Linked DNA regions of Homo sapiens: all the other regions are reported to be linked to region 3. Evidence: microRNA targets listed by miRTarBase, many of them from high-throughput screens and not tested one by one. Region 3 holds a microRNA gene; each other region holds the end of a gene's coding sequence.

Evidence for each region. Region 3 holds the annotated microRNA hsa-miR-653-5p (GUGUUGAAACAAUCUCUACUG, at 3,110-3,130, opposite strand). A microRNA usually pairs through its seed, bases 2 to 8, with sites in the 3' UTR of a target mRNA and lowers its output. Matches are read on the target gene's strand: a 7mer-m8 pairs with bases 2 to 8, a 7mer-A1 pairs with bases 2 to 7 and ends in A, and an 8mer does both.
Region 1: the mRNA of PAWR is a reported target of hsa-miR-653-5p. Seed matches in the 3' UTR shown: 7mer-m8 at 2,068-2,074 and 7mer-m8 at 581-587.
Region 2: miRTarBase lists RBM25 as a target of hsa-miR-653-5p. Seed matches in the 3' UTR shown: 7mer-A1 at 1,106-1,112.

The regions. Positions count from the first base shown.
Region 1 is chr12:79,587,209-79,594,309 of GRCh38, forward strand. PAWR (pro-apoptotic WT1 regulator) reads right to left here. Exons shown (of 7, transcript NM_002583.4): 7 at 1-5,485. The coding sequence ends at 5,399. Among named protein-coding and RNA genes, the nearest start is that of PPP1R12A-AS2, 99 kb to the right of the region's middle.
Region 2 is chr14:73,117,494-73,124,594 of GRCh38, reverse strand. It overlaps RBM25 (RNA binding motif protein 25), which reads right to left. Exons shown (of 19, transcript NM_021239.3): 19 at 696-4,882. The coding sequence ends at 4,790. Among named protein-coding and RNA genes, the nearest start is that of PSEN1, 15 kb to the left of the region's middle.
Region 3 is chr7:93,479,714-93,486,814 of GRCh38, forward strand. It overlaps MIR653 (microRNA 653), which reads right to left and starts at 3,142; the gene lies at 3,047-3,142. All of the region lies in intron 3 of CALCR (calcitonin receptor), which reads right to left. MIR489 (microRNA 489) reads right to left here and starts at 4,306; the gene lies at 4,223-4,306.

The DNA.
Region 1 (7,101 bases), not on the chromosome of region 3:
AAGAGTTTATCTAAATAGACTGACTTAAGGATGCTTTTCCTCTTGTTAGACTTGTATGACATTACTGAGAAGATTTAGAGTTCTAGAAGTAGAGAAGACTGATTAGCTTGTGCCTGTGTATGAAGAATGACAAATTAAGACAAAAGGTTATGTAAACCATTTACTAAAAAAGTCTAAATTTTTATATTCCTAGGCCCCTACTTATCTTTTACAAACTTTGAAGGACCTGAAATTCTTTGGACACCATCAGATTTAGTTTATAAGAGTTCTGATTTTGAATCAAGAAATTATTCATGTAGTTTTAAAACACAATTAAAATTTTCAGTCAGGCTGAACTTTTGTGCACTTCCTCATTTATTCGAGAAACCCCACCACTAATGTATTTAGACCTTAATATGATGGCTTTGAGTCTTAAATCATTGTCCACCTAAAATAATATACCAAATAAAGATTTTTAAAGTGCTGCATATGGTTTCTGTAAGAGGTACATAATTAGATTACCAGCATTATCCTTTAGCTTCAAAAGTAAAACTCATAGTCAGGATTTTACTGATAGTACAGGAAGAAAAAAAATAACCACTGTTGAAAAATAAATGAAAAAAATTTTATTGAGTATTACTTTATACATGCAAATTGAAAGTGAATCTATATTAAGTTGACTATTCCACAATAAAAACCTATGAAATGGGAATGATCAAAGCTGTCTAACACAATACTAATGTGTTCAATAAATTATCCAGATGTTTTTCCACAAATATTTGGATTACCTGAATTAGCTGATTCTTCAGCAAAAGTTAAATTTTAGCTTTAATATGGTAGCAGCAGGATGCTACTTAAATTTAGAAGAAAAACATAAGAATAAAAACCCTGAATAGCATAGCCAAATCTTCCAAGAAATAAGTTCACCAAAAAAGTAGCATACACCTATTTGGTATCCAGAGGAGGAAACAAAACACAGGCACTTAATCAACATCCACCAAGTGATCATCACTAACATTCTATTATTACCAGAGTAACTGTCGATATGTGAACTGTAGATTAGAACAGACTTACATATCTAAAAACAAACCAGTAATCAATAATATATACAGAAATACTAACTTGAAGTCACATTTAAATACCATCAACAGTTTGGTGTATCTGATATAACTGAATTCATTTCATCACTGCTATAAATTCCTTAAAAGTGTTCTTTTCCTAATTAACATTATCTTTAAAAAATGGTAGATATTTCCCAGTATGCATCAGTTTTTTCACTCCACCATTCAGTAAATGTTGTAGCAAATTAAATAGAACCTATTAACTAGATCTAAAAACAGTGGCTGAATACTTAACACAAAGAAGTACTTTTGAGTAAACTATTCAGATTAGACAGGCTAATGCTAAGACTGCATTTTGTGCTACTGACATGCACTATATAGATCGTACACTACTAGATGGAAAGTTGGTCCATGTCCATTTATTTAAAGATTCTGTAACACCTGTAATAGTATTTAATACAGCTCCCACATACTATATTCCTCTCACATAGACATAGTTATTTTTAGTGGGGATAAGGATATGACTTTAACATGCTATGAGATTCTAGCTAAGTAAAATAAAAACAATATGGACTCAGATTTTCTTAGGAGATATTAGTTCAAGTTTTTAAACTGGGAAACAATCAACTTCCATATATCCAGGAGAAACTTAGCATGGGGGGAGGTGCCTTAGTTGATGTGCCTGATAAGCAAACTGTTAGTTGTCTATTAGTATTATGTTTTCGGCTTAATGTAACAACAAAAGAAAGTTGTCACACTACCTCTCAGATAATATCAATTACAATCTTAGAGACTGTAATTGGGAATACAATCCTATAACAAGTTATTAACAATATCATGAATAGTTATTAAGTAAGTGCCAGCACTACATGCAACTTACTGGTCACCAACTCAGAACCCATAAAACTATACACATATGCACAAAAAAAAAACTCCAAAGAAAGATACCTATCACTGTACATATGAATACTGTCCAGGATATCAGATCAATTATCAAATCCAAGGTCTCTGCTGTTTTGTCTTACAGTGTTGAATATATGAATGCTTCTCTATTACACTGACTTGTACTATTTTCAAGAAATTAAGTGGATTCAAAATCTTACATTTTTATTTCTAATTATAAAATCCAGATTAATCCAAAAAACACAAACCACATGTAACCGAGGTAGGTTTTTCACCTTAAGAATACATTGCTTCTACCACAATTAAAAATTTTTTAAACTGAAGAAAAAAAAAAACTACATTGCTCCACATACCTGATACTTAATTTTCTATGTTTGAAACTACTTGAACAAGTGTGACAGTGCTAATCTACTATATTTAGTAAATCCCTTAGTACCTATAAATACACACCCAAAAGCCCTTCCCTCCTTCTCTAATGGTAACTGTTGTATAATAAAATTGTCAACAACTCTAGAAAGATGAAATAAAGATTACTATAGCAATCTTCAATTAATTCATTTCAGAAATCAAGGAGGCAAGTCATGTTCATTTTAAAGATGACAAACTTACTATTTTGAAAATGAGCTCATAAATACATTAGAACTTTGAATGTGCTTTATTATGCCACAAATTCCCAGGAGATTTAAGAAATAGTATTTCTGAACAGGAATAATAATTTCACAAATACTAACACTTTATTGACAATAGACAAGTCTTTTAGGGTAGTGCACATGTACTTAAAAACTACCTTCTACCAATCTCAACACTTTTTATAAATTTTCAGGTGAAACTGTAGCAGATCCTACTTTATTTTTCAATGGTTAGTGTAAAATTCTGTATGTAAAATAAGTACATATTTTGAGATGGAAGAAGGACTGCATGTGAAATGCTTTGCCTAAGTTGTAAGGCTCCTGTCTTTACGCTATCATTAAAGGCCAAAAAAATCACTGCTAGAAATGTTCCCCAAAAAATTCTTAAACAGCTCAGTCTTTAAAAGTATTAATAATTTTTTTTTTTTTTTTTTTGGAGACAGAGTTTCGCTCTTCTTGCCCAGGCTGGAGTACAATGGCGCAATCTCAGCTCACCGCAACCTCTGTCTCCTGGGTTTTCAAGCGATTCTCCTGCCTCAGCCTCCTGAGTAGCCAGGATTACAGGCATGCGCCACCACACCTGGCTAATTTTGTATTTTTAGTAGAGACGGGGTTTCTCCATGTTGGTCAAGCTGGTCTCAAACTCCCGAACTCTGGTAATCCACCCGCCTTGGCCTCCCAAAGTGCTGGGATTACAGGCATGAGCCACTGCACCCAGCCTAATAACTGATATAATTTTTTTAAGTGAAATGAAATGTTCCTTTATTTACATATGAATTAAATAGAAAATTCAAAGTAATTCTTTTAATAAAAACCCATATACTAATATATTTTAAGGTTGGATACTAACAGCATTTTCACAAGATCCAAAGTGTGGATGACGAACTAGGCAATAAGGACATGTGTGCCACATAACTAAGGGTAACTAAAGGAAGATGAGTACCTCACAACCAAAAGCAGTTAACTATGCCTGGCATACCACCCTGTCATGTGGGCAGATCACTGTTCCCATGCTGGGTAAGAGTCTCCAAGAAGGGAAGCCCTTATGCAGTAATTCTGTAACTATATTAAATTTGGTAATCTAACATTAAACTTTTTCGTGAGCAGTGAATATACACATGGTCATATGAAAACTGCCCTGGAGACCGGGTTAATTATTAAATAAACTAAAAGGGGAGAAATGCTGATAGATAAAATTATGTCAATTCCAGGGTGTTCAATGGAATAAAGAAACAGCAGCAGCTGCTTCAAAAGTAGACTATGATCAGAAACCTCAGATGGTAACCTTTAAAAATTGTGGAATCCAGAGTCTCAACCTAAACCTACATAGGAGCTACAGCCAGGGAGTTCTTTCTAAGTTCCTCAAGTGATTCTGATGATTGGCCAAGCTGGAAACTTCTGAACTGGGGGAGAAAGCCAACCTAGGTAAATGTAGAGACTTTTAGAATTCAACATTTGATTATCATTTACTCCACATTTTCCCCCAGCTGTCTCACCTTCTCTATTTTTCTAACAGTGAACAATAAAAGGGCTTGGCAAGTGAAGGAAAAAGTCAGTAGAGTACCTAAAATGGATTTGACTATATTCAAGCCACTTTCATATATTAACTAGATAAAAGGATACCATACTGCTATTTGAAATTCAATCACAAAGCAAAAATGTCATAATTTTAATGTATTTTAAGGGAAGACGGGGTTCTTAACATGAATATGTAATACAAAAACAATTCTAAATAATAATATTTAATAGAAGAAAAAATCTGTATAATTATTTAGAAGTAACTCTGTTTTTAAAATTTCAATGTTAGGAAGAAAATCCCTTAAATTTGAAATAGCGGAATATTCTCTCATATGAAAAAACTGTGTCCCAGTGTTATTCTTCAACTTAGAAATTAGGCAAAGTATTTTAGTACTATTTCTGCTTACATATTGTTTTGTATGAATGTTTTAAGTATGAATAATATTTTGGTTTTTAGTGTGCATGCTAATATAAAAATATGGATTTTTTTCTCCTACACTGACTTTGTACACTTTCCAGGCCCGAAGAATAAAAAACTTTTAAAATATCCTGTGTTCACTAGCAAACCTTGGAACGATAAAAAAAGGTAGTACCTACATAAGAAATTTTACATTGAAATTACAATTGTATGTTTTTCAGGAGTTAAAGTGATTCAATTTTTCAATATTCAAACACAAAATAGTAAATTTTTATTTACTATAGCACAATTCAAGTATTCTCTTAAATTTATATTTAGTCAACTAAAACATGACAGTGACTTTATAAGAGCTTTCCTTTTAAAAGGTTGCTGTTATAAAAAAGTATGACTCTATTACTCTAAATGCTTAGAATAAGTGGAAAGAACAAATGACAGTAGACAAAAACCTTTATGAGTGAGTCATCAACACATAAAAGGTTGCACACATCAGTAATAGGACATGTGAAGGTAACATCCCAAAAGTATTTGAACTCATGTAAACAAAGACTATGTATATTCCTAAGGGAGAAAATGTACTACCAAGATAAAATATATTCAAACGGCTGTGACTTTAAACCATGTATTAGTTGAATACCACACAAAACCAAAAAGGCATTATCTATCATTTAATAACTGAAAGATATTACTTATTTGTGAGATAAAAGGATAATGCTTTTTTAAAACCAATAATGAAAAAGAAGTATTTTGAAAACAAACATCTGTTTGCTAGAAATAAATATACTTGCTTAGTTATTTTAATGTATTGCAGCATAGGAATATTGTGCTAGCATTGACCATTAACATTCAATCAGTAGTTTAAAATATTTTTTCCACATTGAGTCTTGAATCCTCTACCTGGTCAGCTGACCCACAACTTTCAAAAGAGTTTTATTTTCCTGCTTTAGCTGTTCATTTTCATCTTCTATGTCATCTAGGTCCTTAAGAAAAAAAAAAGACACTTTAAAAATACTTAAAAATATTTGAGGAGAGATGAAAACACTTAATACACATTAAAAATAATTCATACAACCAATTAATTTTGAAATGAGGGCAAGCTCTGAAAACAACTTTAGATGTAATATGCCCCACCAAAAAAGAGCATCCATTACTTGACTCTTCGTTCTTACAACAAGTGTATAGGCCAACTCTTACAGATCTTTCAGTTTTTCAAAGGAAGCCGAAAGTCAGAATTTTAAAATTGTGAATCTTCCAATTTTCAATCATCATAAATAAGTTAGTTTTTTAGCTAAACAAACTCCACTTCCCCTCCCTAAAACTGAGGCAAAAAAAAAAACTACCCATGCAAGCCATATATGGTATTGAGCCCTAGGTTGCAACCTTGTGTCAAATTAGTCATCAAAAGGTGCAGGTACAAGTTCTAGATGCACTCCTACCACTGTCTGATCTTTAAAGGTGTACAATGGGGATAACACTCTGGAGAGGTGACAAAACTGAGGCCTACGGAAAAGGGGATCTGGAGTATCTTGATCTGGATCAATTTTGTTTTCAGCTCCAGATCAATTTGTATGTTGGACTTTTCTACGACATTTTGAAGGAAAGGTTTTAGAGCTAAAATTAATTCAAAGCCACTAAATTAAGTATTCGCTCTCCAGCTTTAAAAGCATATGATCCAGCTCTTTTTTCCCTGTATTAATCCTTGTCCCAAACACACAACCATCTGGTTAAAACAAATTCACCATAAGTTTTAGTTACAAGAAACATTATTTCAAGACAGACTCTTTACTGTTAAAAAAGCAGACATTTATAGATTTATTCTTGCAGTTTAAAATAATAAATCTTGATGTAATCAATTTGAATCACTTGAACCCGGGGGGTGGAGGTTGCAGTGAGCTGAGATCGCGCCACTGAACTCCAGCCTGGGCAACAGAGAGAGACTCCTTCTCAAAAAATAATAATAATAATAATAAAGAGTACCAATTTTAGGGTTTTTTTTTTTTTTTTTTGAGACAGAGTCTTACTCTTGCTGCCCAGGCTGGAGTGCAGCAGCGCAATCTTGGCTCACTGCAACCTCCGCCTCCTGGGATCAAGCAATTCTCCTGCCTCAACCTTCTGAGTAGCTGAGATTACAGGTGCCCACCACCATGCCCAGCTAATTTTTCATATTTTTAGTAGAGTCGGGGTTTTACCATGTTGGCCAGGCTGGTCTCGAACTCCTGACTTCACGTGATCCGCCCTCCTCGGCCTCCCAAAGTGCTGAGATTACAGGTGTGAGCCACAGCGCCTGGCCAATTTTAGATATTTCTTGAGGCAACTCTGTGCCAGTGCCCTTACATATGGTAGTGACAAAGCGCCTGTCACCCTCAGATTTTAACAAAACAGAGAACAAATCCATAAATCAGTCTATCTCCAAAAGAATAAAATTAAGTGAGCTAAACTGATAACTGCCCAAAGGAAATCAGTTTTTGGAAGAAAATGATACCTCTTACTAATTATTATTTCACTAACAAAAGAACAAAGTGAATAATGCAATTAATAATTTCTTCATATTTATATATTTTCATCCAATTGCCAAAAAAAACCCCTCCAAACCTGA
Region 2 (7,101 bases), not on the chromosome of region 3:
TTGAGCTCAGGTGTTCAAAGCCCACCAGGGAAACATGGTGAAACCCTTCCTCTACAAAAATTAGCTGGGTGTGTTGGTGTGCACCTGTGGTCCCAAGTACTTGGGAGGCTGAGGTGGGAGGATCACTTGAGCCCAGGAGGCAGAAGTTGCAGTGAGCCAAGATCTTGCCACTGCACTCCAGCGTGGGTGACAGAGGCAGACCCTATCTCAAACAAACAAACAGAAAGATTTCACGTGAATGCATGTAAAACTACTTGTCATTAGTGGTTATTTAATAGTGCAATGCTAGACCATGAATTAGAACCCCATATATACTCCTCTAGATAAACCACCTGCAGGGACTACTGACATAATTACAATGGGCAAAACAGACTAGGTGACCTCTAAAGCCCCTTCCACATATTACTACTTCTACTGAGAATCTTCCTATTTCCCATTTCCTCTCAGCTTATCACATTTGATAATTCACATAGTATTTTGTATTTATGTCTAATGATGTTCCTGAACTCGTGTAATTTTTTTTGCCACCATTAGATGATCAGCTAACAGAAATACATGTATTTTTTTGAGATGGAGTTTTGCTCTTGTTGCTCACGCTGGAGTGCAGTGGCGCAATCTCGGCTCTCTGCAACCTCCACCTCCTGGGTTCAAGATGCTGTCTCAAAAAAAAAAAAAAAAGTAGACAGACTCAGGAGTGTCATTTAATTCAAACAACATGGCTTGAAAAGAATTTTTATTTTTGTTTCTAGAAATTATCTTCTTTACCTGGGTATTTTAGACTGCCATTCTTTAATTTCGCCTTCATGACTCAAGTAATGAAATGCAAAGATTCTGTCAATTAAAAATGTAAGCATTCAAATGCAAATAAATTAACATAAATATTTCAGTATTTTACCATAATCACATTACAAAAAATCTATCAGTTTATCAAAAAGTGTAAGTTCACTTCGCTCTATAGTATGATTGTTATATTAGTAGCTCCTGGGTTTGGTATGTATCTCCCTGTTTTCTTCTTGACAGCTAGACTGTTTCTTTGCCTGCTTGGGATTCCTTCTCATACCCTTTTATCTCCAGTGACATTCACAAATCAATCCCTCATCATCTTTTGTTGAGCAAAACTATTTCTCAATTTCATACTTAACAGAAGACTGAAATACAACCCAGAGAAGTTTGTAATCAATTTGACATAAAACCTCTCAGCAGTCTTTTGGGTATAAATTGGGGATATCATAAAACCTGTTAAAAAGAGTTGGGAAAATAAGCCTCATCTAAACATTGTATACCTGCTTACACTTATTTGCATTAAATTTATTCCATTAAAAAGGAGAAAAAAAGATAGTGTCTAGTTCAAATTGGCTCTCAAGCTAAATGTTTTCTCAGTTTTTCTACTATATCTAGTATTCATGGCAGATTAATACCTGAAACAGCACGCTTCACAAAATAATCATTAGCTTACACTTACATAGTTTACAGGGAAATGCCATAATAAGATTCAGAATAAGTTACAACATAAAGTTATCTACAGAAAAAATTTTCAGGGCTGGATGGAAAAAAAGCCTAGAATATTAGGGCTTTCTCAGACATAATTTTGCAAGATTACATTACGTTCATGAGTTACGTGTATTTGCCTCAAAAAATGTTTTTCTCTTTAAAATCTACTTAAAGGAAAATTCAGCTGCATTTATGTAGTCTGTTAGGATAAAATAATACTGAATAGACACCTTAAAGTGCTAATCAAAATGTAGTCTTGGATCAGTTGGCAATGACATTAGCTGGGAGCTGTCCAGAAATGCAAAGCCTGCGGCGCCACCCCAGCGCTGCTACTTCAGTGTCTCTATTTCTACAAGCACTCCTCAGATGATTTGGGGTCACATTAAAGTTTAAGAAAAACAACTTCAAACTTACCTTTCTTCCTTGTGAACAGATGTACATACTTTATTTTTAGGGACAAATAAAGAAAAGTAGTATTCTACTACTTTTTTGCCAGATCAAGACTGGTTCTTAAGATGTTCACGCTTTGGCCAGGCAAGGTGGCTCACGCCTGTAATACCAGCACTTTGGGAGGCTGAGGCGGGTGGATCACCTGAGGTCAGGAGTTTGAGACCAGCCTGGCCAACAAGGTGAAATCCTGTCTCTACTAAAAATACAAAAAATTAGCCAGGTGTCGTGGTGGGCACCTGTAATCCCAGCTACTCAGAAAACTGAAGCAGAATATCTCCAGAACCCGGGAGGCGGAAGTTGAAGTGAGCTGAGCTCGCGCCATTGCACTCCATCCTGGGCGACAAAAGCACAACTTCCTCTCAAAAAAAAAAAAACCCCAAAAAAACAACAAAAAAAGACTTTCATGCTCTTTATATAACAACTTGAAATGGCAAAATGAATTCATACTGTATAAGGTTTTCAAACTAAAATTAATTTATGAGATTATGGTAAAATTAACCCACAAAGTTCAAGCAACTTAATAGAAATTTCTTATGTGTATTTTCAGACACTAGAATATGCCTGTTTAATGTCTAATTCTTTATATATACAATTCTAAAAATCAACCAACTCTGACAATCTAAAGCCTTTTACTGAAGCTTGGTTACAAAACATGATTTAAACTGGCATTAAGCGATTAACAGTTTCTACCACATTTACTGTAACAATTTTCACTCTGCTGCAGAAACTTTAATATATGAACTTGCACAAATTCATATATTTAGTTGAGGTCCTGTCACAAACCTCACTGGAGATGTTATGCAGTACAGAGTACATCTCCCCAAAGGTTTCAGATTACGACATCTCCCTTGTTTTTAGAGTGGCCCTTTAAGATAAGTACAGTTGACAGAGCAGGAGAAGAAACGAAGCAAAGGAAATCAAATCTACCTGAATAAACCTTCATGTTAATAGTGGCTAAATAAAAACAACACAATATGATGCTTAAGAACAGTGCAGTATGTTAAGAAAAGACAGACACAATAAACTCCTCGAACAAGGTCTTAGGCTGGGGGTGTGTCTAAGAAAAGACTGAAAAATTAACGAAAATGGCAAGGGGCATCTTTTCTGAAATTTTCCGTTGAGAAACCAGAATTTAAAATAAAAGAGACATTTCCATAGATGTATAGTAGATTCATCCAAAATAATGTAAATGGCTTCCTTGACCTTTAGATACCAATAGTCATAAAAATCAAGTCCATAAAAAGTTCAGCCCATATTTTTAACTTTTCTAGTATGCACCACACAATTACAACATGATGCCATTTATTTACATGATTCTGAAAGAATATGAGTCCCCAGGATCAAATATATACATTTTTAATATTTGAAATATTTACATAATGGAACCACATCAGGGTTCGAGGGTAAGAACAGTGTTTTCAAATGTCCTCTCCAGGTGTGTTTAAAAAAAAAAAAAATCCAGTAATCCAAAGCTCACATTATGCTTTTTCTAACAGGCCAATCTTTACCTTTCTTTTAAATAAGTACTCAGACATGGGAACAGTTGCATCTAATTTGTGTGAAAAGCTGTTTAAAACTTCTTACGTTTTCAGGTAATTTTACTCCCTGGTGAAATTCTGATCTACAACGAAGAAAGCCCCAGGAATTTCTCTAAGCACATCATCAGTACATTTTTAAACACTAATGAGCCAAGGTAAAACAAGATATAAACCTTCTACAAGACAAAAATGAAAACAAATAGTTAGTGGTTGGTAACTGCCTTGAATGATTTACCTTTATCCTTAAATAACATGTAAACTTACAAATTGCCGAGCAGAATACCTATCATGTTTGTAAAACTCTCACTGTCTGTCAATTTGCCTAATTTTATTTCATTTTTTTGTTTTGTTTTAAAGGGGGTTTTCACTTACACTTTTTGGTATGATGAATTTTTTGTTAAATAAACAGATACAATAGAATTAAACTAAGGACCAATTAGTGCAAAAATGCATTAAATACAGCTCTCCAGGATTTTTAGGATATGCCTCATTTCTGAGCAATAAAATTAAAAGGAAAAATCACTATGATCCACATTCCTTTAAAAGAGAAGCTGAAGCAGCCATCTTATTAATAAGAAAACCCCATCCAGTTAGCAAACCACATTGCTCACGACACGAGAACACCATGCTCTGGGAAACTAATAACCTAATTATAACAGACATTTCAGGTTGGAACAGTACCACTTTTCCTTTACAATTCTATTCTTTAGTTGGGAAATGTTTTAAGGACCCCACCAAAGCAAATTAGGGAAAAGAAAGACTTTTACACATACATTCACAAACACATTCATACAGAAATACAGTAGGAATGGATTGTCTGCTAATTTTTGCATTCCAATTTTAAACTCCATGCCTTCACAAGGGCTTGCCATTTCTGATCAAAAGAGAGTGGGGGTGGTAATAGTTTATGACTGGTGTTTTCAATTAAAATTGTTCATGTTGGTTCCTATACAGTACATTTCAATATTAAGTGCAATTCTGCAAAATAATTGGGGAGTCGTTTTAATATTTACAAGAAACAAATCAGCAGAACAAGATTATATCAGATAGGCTGTGTACAGTAGCTGCGGCTTATAAAACATACCAGTAATTTGTACCTGGTGAGTATAAAGAGAACCAAGGATTCAGATGACTTTACAACCAAGGGAGTACACAGGGCAACAACAAATTAGAGGACCAAAAAATTCACATTTTCTACAAAAAAAAAAAATTACAGATCTCACAATGTCTTCAAAGACAAAGAAAAATTCAAAGTCCTTAAAAGGGTGGCAAAGAAGAAATCTGAAATGGAACTCTAAATATAAAAAGTTTTACTTCACAAGACCAATTTTCTTGGCTTCTGTTTCATATATCAATAATCTCCACATTTTGACTATAAAAACTTCTGCTTCTTCATCAAGTACCTAAAGAGGAAACAAAACAGCAACACATGTAAGAGAAGCAATCATCAACATCTGCCAAAAACAGTGGCCAGTATAAAAAAGTTTTTCATCCACTGACAATAAGCACTTATTACTTAAATGCTAGTTAAGATTTTAAGGTTGTTTTAGTGGCCGGGTGTGGTGGCTCACGCCTGTAATCCCAGCATTTTGGGAGGCCGAAGCGAGCGGATCACAAGGTCAGGAGATCAAGACCATCCTGACTAACATGGTGAAACCCCATCTCTACTAAAAATACAAAAAACTAGCTGGGCATGGCAGCGTGCGCCTGTATTCCCAGCTGCTGGGGAGGCTGAGGCAGGAGAATGACGTGAACCCAGGAGGCGGAGCTTGCCAAGATCGCGCCACTGCACTCCAGCCTGAGCAACAGAGCAAGACTCCATCTCAAAAAAGAAAAACAAAAAAAACAAAAAAGTTTTAAGGTTGTTTTGAGGGGATACATGAGATTCTGTATTGTTATTACATAGTTGTATATTTAGTTCTTCTTAAATTACTACGTTCTTTATAATACGTATTTGTTTTCCTTAGGAAGTAGTTTTGCTTTCAGTAAAATGACTTAAAGAAAATTTGTCCAGTGTGAGAAATGTATTATTAATAAATAGTAAATGGACCGGGCACAGTGGCTCACACCTATAATCCCAGCACTTTGGGAGGCTGAGGCAGGTGGATCACCAGAGGTCAAGAGTTCAAGACCAGCCTGGCCAACATGACGAAACCCCATCTCTACTAAAAATACAAAAATTAGCTGGGCATGGTGGCCGGCACCTGTAATCCCAGCTACTCGGGAGGCTGAGGTAGGAGAATCGCTTGAACCTGGGAGGCGGAGGTTGCAGTGAGCCAAGATCATGCCACTGCACTCCAGCCTGGTCAACAAGAGCAAAACTCCGTCTCTAAATAAATAAATAAATAGTAAATGTAAATTAACAACGACAACAAAAAAAAATCATTCAAAATTCCATGGCTTACTAAACACAAAGAGTACCATATTTTTGTGATCCACCTTTTATTCTTTTATTTTACCTTTACAGATACTGCAATTATACATGTCTGACAAAACTACTTCCCAAGGAAACCATACGCTTTTCATAAAGAACACAGTAATTTAAGAAGAACTAAATAATATACAATTACATAATAACAATACAGAATTTCATTTATCTCCAAAAACACAACCTCACAAACTTTTTTTTTTTTTTTCTGGAGACAGGATCTCTCTTGTCACCCAGCCTGGAGTACAGTGGCATGATCATGGTGCACTACAGCCTTGACCTCCCAGGCTCAAGTGATACTCCCACATCAGCCTCACCAGTAGCTAGGACTACAGGTGTGCACCACTACTCCTGGCTACATTTTTGTGCTTTTTAGTAGAGACAGGGTCTCACTATGTTGCCCAGGCTGGTCTCAAACTCCTGGGCTCAAGCAATCTGCGCACCTTGGCCTTCCAAAGTGCTGGGATTACAGGTTTGAGCTGCTGTGCACAGCCCAACCGTACCATCTTAACTAGCATTTATTGTGTATGTGACACTAAAGTGAACATTAAATGAGAATATAAGTATTTAGTACAGTGTCCAGAATACAGTAAACACAATAAGCAAATACAATCATCACGGGGCACACATGACTACTGAGTAACAAGTCTTCTTCCAGTGGTGGATGAGGAAATTGTCTTCCTCTCTACTTATGAGTTATAGGGTCCTTGTGTCCCCATCACTATTCCTGCCATCATCCCATACACACATCTGCCCCTCTACATTATGGCTGCTATGAGGTGAAATGGCCTACTCTGCTCCCTTCTGAAGGGGGCAGCTATGACTGTGCTCCAGAAATGTGGTCTAGTGTTGCCAGGTCTTCATAGAGGAAGTTTGGGGTAGGAATTTAGAGTACTCAATCTCTAGTCAGACTACATTGGTTCAAATTCTCTAGTCAGGCTACATAGGTTCAAATTGCACTGCTGCCTCTTACTAGCGATAGGTCCTTGGTTGGGTTACTTAACCTGAGCCTCAGTTCCCTCACCTCTAAAGTGGAGGCGATGTAGCTACACACCATAGCAGTAGGTACTAAGTGGGAATTAAAAGAGTTGGTATGTAGTTAAGTGCTCTGACAACTGACTGGTATATAACAAGTGCTTAATAAATACCTGGGAAGAGACTGGGCACAGTGGCTCACGCCTGTAATCCCAGCAC
Region 3 (7,101 bases):
CATTAGTTTCCATTTACTATTGAAAATGGATAACACCTACACACTCATATACCTCTTTATCAGCTAGGATTGTTTTAACTGTATTATGATTCTAAAGTTTAGAAGTAAACAAAACAAATAATCTAATTTCCAAAAAATACAAATATGAAATCAACTTTGCCTTACTCTTAAGAATCATGAATCATGTTATTAAAAAATAGACATAGTTCAATAAATATGCTTTTTTATTTGATTCTTTCAGCTAAATTTTATTGGTGCTGTGTACACTGCCAGAAATTTATCCCATCTATTCCATGGAACAAACAAAATATGTTTTCTGCTCCTCATAATTGACCATAATCTCCTTAAATTGGTTTCAACAGCAGATGACCTGTACAGGGCAATTCATGTTCACTAATGAAAAATCAATGTATTTCTTAGATATTTATCTCAGCACATTTGCATTTTGGTACAGATTGACAATAGTTTTTTTCAGTTTCAGTTAATCATCACCATCACAAGCCTCTCTTTTTCAAAGGTAATGTGGGTGTTTGAAAAGATCACTCTGTCACACTGTTCTTCCTAACTTGTGTTTATAAAGATTTCAATTTCTTTTGTGGCTATGACCAATGTTTTTAGTGGTGTTGGAATCTGCGAATTTTTAATATCCATGTTCTGCATAGAGATTTTTTTTTCTTTTTTTGAGGAGACCTAAAAACATCAGCCTGCACTGACTTTCCTTTTTCTAAATTTAGGAATGCTGCTTAATTTCTATCATACCCGTTGAAATTTCAATTCTAAGATTGAAGTTTCTCCAATTGTATTGATGGCAGAAGTGGTGTTATGTACTCTTCTATATGTGCTAGTTTCTAAACAAAACTCATCCCTATTAAGTTGACATGTATATTCCTGGCTCTTCATGGTGAATCCTCACTGTTTTCCATGTGTGTCATTGTATATGTCCTACACGACAGCACATCACTAACTGCTAAGCTGTCCAGCACAGAATCCAATCAAAATTCAGAGTTTGGAGAGAGTAGGGAGCAAAAATATTCAGGATGGCTACAGATACAAGGTAGAATTTGAATTGTATCTTGAGTGTGGGAAGTTTCTGCATAGGCACAAGGGGGGGTCGAGAAGCCTTTTGGGATGGAGGGACCTTTCCCACAAAAGTCTGGAGGTTGGAAATGACATGCATGAGCCACTGTGAGAAAACCATCTTGCCTGAAGGGGAGCATATTTGAGGGTAAGAAGGTCAGGACTTTGCTTTCAAGACTGCATTATCTGAATCTTCAGATAACAAAAAAAGAGTTAAAACTTGTTTTGTCACTTTGAGCAGGTTAGCAACCTCTCACTAGATCTGTTTCCTCAACCTAGGAAACGTAAAATAAGAAGAGCGGTAAGAATAATATTTATCATCTGTCATGTTGTGAGGATGAACAAGACAATAAACACCAAGTGTCAGGGACATGAAAGGTTCAAAACATTTTAGCTAATATTGTTAAAACATGGTATATAACATAATATATATGATAAAGATGTTTTGTAGATTTTTGATCAGTGAAGGTTGTGAAAGGAGAATTTTTAGTAAAATTCATGCAGCAGGCATCAGATGTCCACAGGTTAAAGTTGCGGGGTGGGGTGGGGGCAGCCAGGAAGTTGAAGGCCTGGCTGGACTAGATCAGTCCATGTTGGAACAAGAAAGTACCACTCTTAGCACCTTCTCAATAATAAAAACATGAAGGCATATTTGAATACAAGGAATGGGAAACAGTAATAGTCAAATAGCCCAGATAATTAGCCTAGATATTTGGGGAAAAAAATAGTTCCCAAGAAAGGGAAGATGCTGGGAAAGGAAAACCTTATTAGGGGGAACTTCTCCCCCTTGGTAAGTAAGTCCTATTTTGGGTTAGATTTGGAGATGGTAGCAAGCCATCCTAGTGGAAATATCTTGCAAAGAGAAGAGGGTGAATACTTATCATTATTATAACATTACTGTGATAACTTCAAATGGACACCAATTGTGAATAAGGTTGACACTACTCTTTAAACATTTTGTTGATTTCTAATTTTAATGTCTCTTGAATTTATGTCAGAAGAGAAAGTAATGAACCCATAAAAATGATTATAACTGTGCAAATCCTTTACCAGTGTAGCTGAACACAATTCTTTTGATATATGACACTTTCCCCACTGGTCTTCAGATCAGTCAGCAAATATTGATCAAACTTGATGAGCCCAACATTGTGCCAGATGCTGAGGATACAGTGCTGAATAAAATAAGTGTAGACTGTGCTCTCATAGAGCTTACAGTCTGGCAAGATGGACCAACACTATAAAATATATTTCTGATACTTGAAATTATGAACAATAAAGAATCATCAGTCATAAAATTCTTAGATATTCCTAATGGAATTGGAACACGATTTGCAAAATTTTTAAAAAAGAGTAATTTGAAGGGATTCCATGTTGAGGTTTCTTTTTTTAGTTTATTACTCAACTTTTGTATGAATATGTGTGTTTTAAAAATTCAATTACATATTAGGCAACCATCAAAACAAGAATGGATCATGATGCCTTCACAATAGAGATATTAATTATTGGTTCAACTTATACATTTATTTTAGATTCTTCTTTTGTGGCTCTAAAATCTTCAGTTAATATGAGAATGATCATTTGATGTATTATTAATTTCTGGACCATTTTCTCACCATCTTCAAATCGAATTAGAAGATGGAACATGATGTCATATATAAATCTTATCTGTCACTTGTATTAGATATGCTAAACACTGGGAAGTATTTTGTTTAAATCTGGCTTTCTTCCCAAAAGTAACATTCTGAATTCTCTTTTTATATGGCTGACAACCAACCAAGAGATTTTCTTGCTCTAGTTGGAAATTCATGGAAACCATAGGCAAATAGTATGTCCGAGGATAACAAGTAGAAAACCCTATGCTTGTATTTTCAATTATATTTTTATTTGCTTTAATGCAGTTTTAACATCAGTAACAGTGGAAATACGACAATCTGTATACGAGTAGTTATAATTCATGCTGATGAAAGTAGCTTCCATCTTATCATTCTTGCAATATTGAAACAAACTCCAGTGAACTTGTTTGAAGCTGGTTCAGTAGAGATTGTTTCAACACTGAAGGAATGAAAAATTAGAACCTCTGTTGTCAGATGAGCAGTAATAATCTGCATCAGTTCCTGGTCTGGTTCATATTTGAGCACTGAAGATGGAATTTTCCCAACAGTAGATGAATGTCTCAGTGGCCTTCTTCCTAAAATAACATACCCATTGGGGCATTACGTTTATACATACAGTCATCCCTTGGTATACTCAGGGGATTGGTTGCAGGACCTCCTGTGGATACCAAAATCTGAGGATGCTTAGGTACTTCATATAAAATGGTGTAGTATTTGCATATGTGGATACCAAAATCTGAGGATGCTTAGGTCCTTCATATAAAATGGTGTAGTATTTGCATATAACCTATGTACATCCTCCTGTATTATTTAAATCATCCCCAGATTATTTATACCTAGTACAATGTAAATATGATGTAAATAGTTGTTATACTGTATTATTTAGGAAATAATAAAAAGAAAAATAGTCTGTATGTTTACAATACAATTTTTTCCTGAATATTTTCTATCCAAGATTGGTTCAATCTATGGATGTACAACCCATGGATACAGAGGGCTGACTGTATAGATAGATAGATAGATAGATAGATAGATAGATAGATAGATAGATAGACAGACAGATAGATAGATATAAACATATAAATATATGTATATGTATGATTTTATGTATATTATATATATATAATTACAATCATGGAATTACTACTGCTTAAAAATAACACATATACAAATTTCATAAAGTTTATTAAATGTTAAACTTTTGCTGATAATTTTATACAAATAAGAATTGCTGGGAAGGTGGTATCATTTTCAGCAATACAGAGACAAAATAAAACCAGTAGTGATTGGATGAAACTACCAAACAATGTAAGAGACTTCAAATATCCTACTTATTATAAGTGTTATGTCTATACTACTTATTTCAGGGGGTTAAATAAAAATATGATTATATGTTCACATTCAGATAGAAATGAGATATTAAGGGCATATTGTTTTTCTGAATAAACATCAGTTTTCAAAGCTTTGCATATAAACCATCTTACATGATTTTTCAACATACAAACAAACAAAACTCTTAATTGTTGTCCCATGTAGCAGTTTAGCTGCCGTATATGTGATGTCACTCCTAAAGGTTCAAGTAAATGGCGTCACACATACGACCACCAAGCTGCCACCAACAGCAGTAGTCAGCAGCCCAAACATCATCAGTTTTTTTCAGTCGACAAATACTTTGAGTGCCTCTCACATGTCAGGCACTCTTCTAGGTTCTGGAAATTCAGCAGTGAACCAAACTGGCAAGCCACCTGCTCTCATAGAGCTTACATTCTTGATTTTATCCACACTAATCATGGAATCCACAGGAAAGGAATCTGATTTGAAATGGTCATATGCTTATGCAATTCCTACTGTGATGTAGGACAGTCAGTTTGCTTTTGGGTTACAGGCAGTTTCTAGAAGTACAGAGACAGTTACAGAGCTGTTCTTCATGGAACTTTGAGAAATGGTCCATCTCTGCAATAGTTCAAGCCCACTGAGTGTATGGACCCAAGCTGCTGTGCTGAAGGGAGAGCTTCCTATTGATTGCCACATGCAAAACTACTCTAAAAAGTATGTAAACCTAGAATCCACAAACTGATGCAACCAATGAGATTTTCATGTCACCATCCTTAATGTTGATAATGTATATAATTATTTTTGCTTTTCAGTTACTTACACATTTCAAAATAAGAAAGGACAAAGCACACTGTTGTAAAAAGTGTTAGCCCTGGTTTTCCCAGGTAAGATCAGATGCCTGGCTGGTGTACTGTGTAATTCTACTTACATTATATAAACAACGAAACTGCATATATCATAAATTCAAAGCAAATAGGTGAACATAGATAAGTAAACAAGTAACAATAACACCTGCTCTGAAGAACCTAATTTTTATGTCTTTGTTATTACCATTGGCTTTGTTGTCATCAGCATCGTCACTGGCATCTTTTTCTGAGAGCTCACTGTATACCAACTGCTGCTCTAAGCTTACTGTATACCTCGCAGGAGGGAGAGGAATTGAGTGGGTGGTTATGGTTAATGGAAAGAGGCTAATTGAAGGTGGTGACCCAAACTGAGACTTTAAAACCTATATGGAAATCGAGTTGATAGAGTTCAATAGTTAGTGTATTTTCACAACAATCTATTGTCTAAAAAGTAATATTTCGGATTAATTAGGAACATTGTCATTAAAATTTTTTTTCTCTGAGAAGTGTCAGTGTGAACATAATAAACGTTTTGAAGAAAATGGACATATCAAATTTTGTTTTATGGACAAATCCTCCAAATCAAATATATAATCCAAATACAGAGAGAGAAGCAAATTTCTCTCTGTCACAGCAAAGAGAGCACAAACCCATTTAAGTGCCCTGTTCAGTTATGCTTGCTGGTCAAGAGGTGCCCACAAGCCATAAAATGTTTCTGTCCATGGCTCATGCAAAGATGTGCATTTTTTTCAATATTTAAATTATAGACTACATTAGTAAAAGTTTTGAATAAAAATGACCTACGTTGCTTTTTGAACACACTACAAATTTTCTAAAGCCTTTGTAATAAAAAAGGTAATTAGATAATCTTCAAACAATTTTGTTAGTATTTAGTTCTTTCTTTAGTTTTTCTTCTGTCATGTTCAATATAATTATTTATGAAGCATGATTATTCAAAAATATTCACATATACCAGATCACTTAGGATTTCATTTGAGCTATGAAAAATAACAATATCAATAATATATAGCAATATTTTTACATCCATAGAAGACCACATAAGGCCTGGGTATTTACTGGCAAATTAAAATATTCTATTAGTTTCCATAGTAGTCTTGTTTAGTGTTTTTATTATATTTCCAGTGACATAAAGAAACCTGCATTTCCAAATACTAATTACTTTTAGAAAATTTTACTGTAATTTATCTAAAGAAATATTTAATAGGATAAAATGATAAGACAAACTGACAATAAAATAAGTTATACTCATTATCCAAATAGGTGCAAAAGGGTTGCATTAATAGTCATTCCCATACACCATTTATTTGATGTACAATATTACAAAATAAAAATTGCCTTACAAATTAAATTAACATTTATGAAATACTAGCAATATTTTTTTCTTGAATAATATAAAGACAAACAGTTTAGACAGACTTGTAGGCCTATAACTACACATTAATAAACAATGGAAATCCTCGAACCCTATGCAAGCTTTGTGTGGGTCAGTATGACAGTATGAGATATTGAGTGATCTTTGCTGCCAACTGTAATTTATTAGCAAATGTTACTCTGATGTGACAGAAAGGATAAGAAGCAAGGCAGCTCCACATTGATTTACGTAAAATTTACTCATCTCCCATTCATGTGCTATTGAAGCTGATGTGATGGTAGGTTAACAATGTTGACACAAATAATAGGCATTGATAGTGTTCTCTAAGATGATTATATTTCCGATTACTTGCTAAATCTTTTAGGAATAAAACAATATAGAATTACACAAACTGAACATAATTTAAAAGATTGGAGAAAGAGTTATAGAATAATAGTGGTATATAAAGACTTGAAGTTTCCATAGTCAGTTTTTGATGAAAAATACATTTGAAATCAATAGCCAGACTGAAAGAGTTCAGAAGTTTTAAAAGAATTGAACAGCCCAGATGTTTTAAAAGGATTGAACAGCCCAGAAACTATCATTCAAATCATAGTTTTGAACTAAGATTCAAAACATAGTTTTTTCAACATGAAAACATTTTACCTGAGAATATTATTTACCAACTATGTTAATTTCTAAGATAATATGGAGATGTCTAAAATTAATGCTAAAGTTTTGTAAACAAAACTCAAATTTCTGGGTAGACCACAAACACTAATTTAAATTAGAGACAGTTCAGAGGAGAGATTTGTTAACAAAATATTAAGCAAAATAATGGCTTTGAGGAACTTAGTTT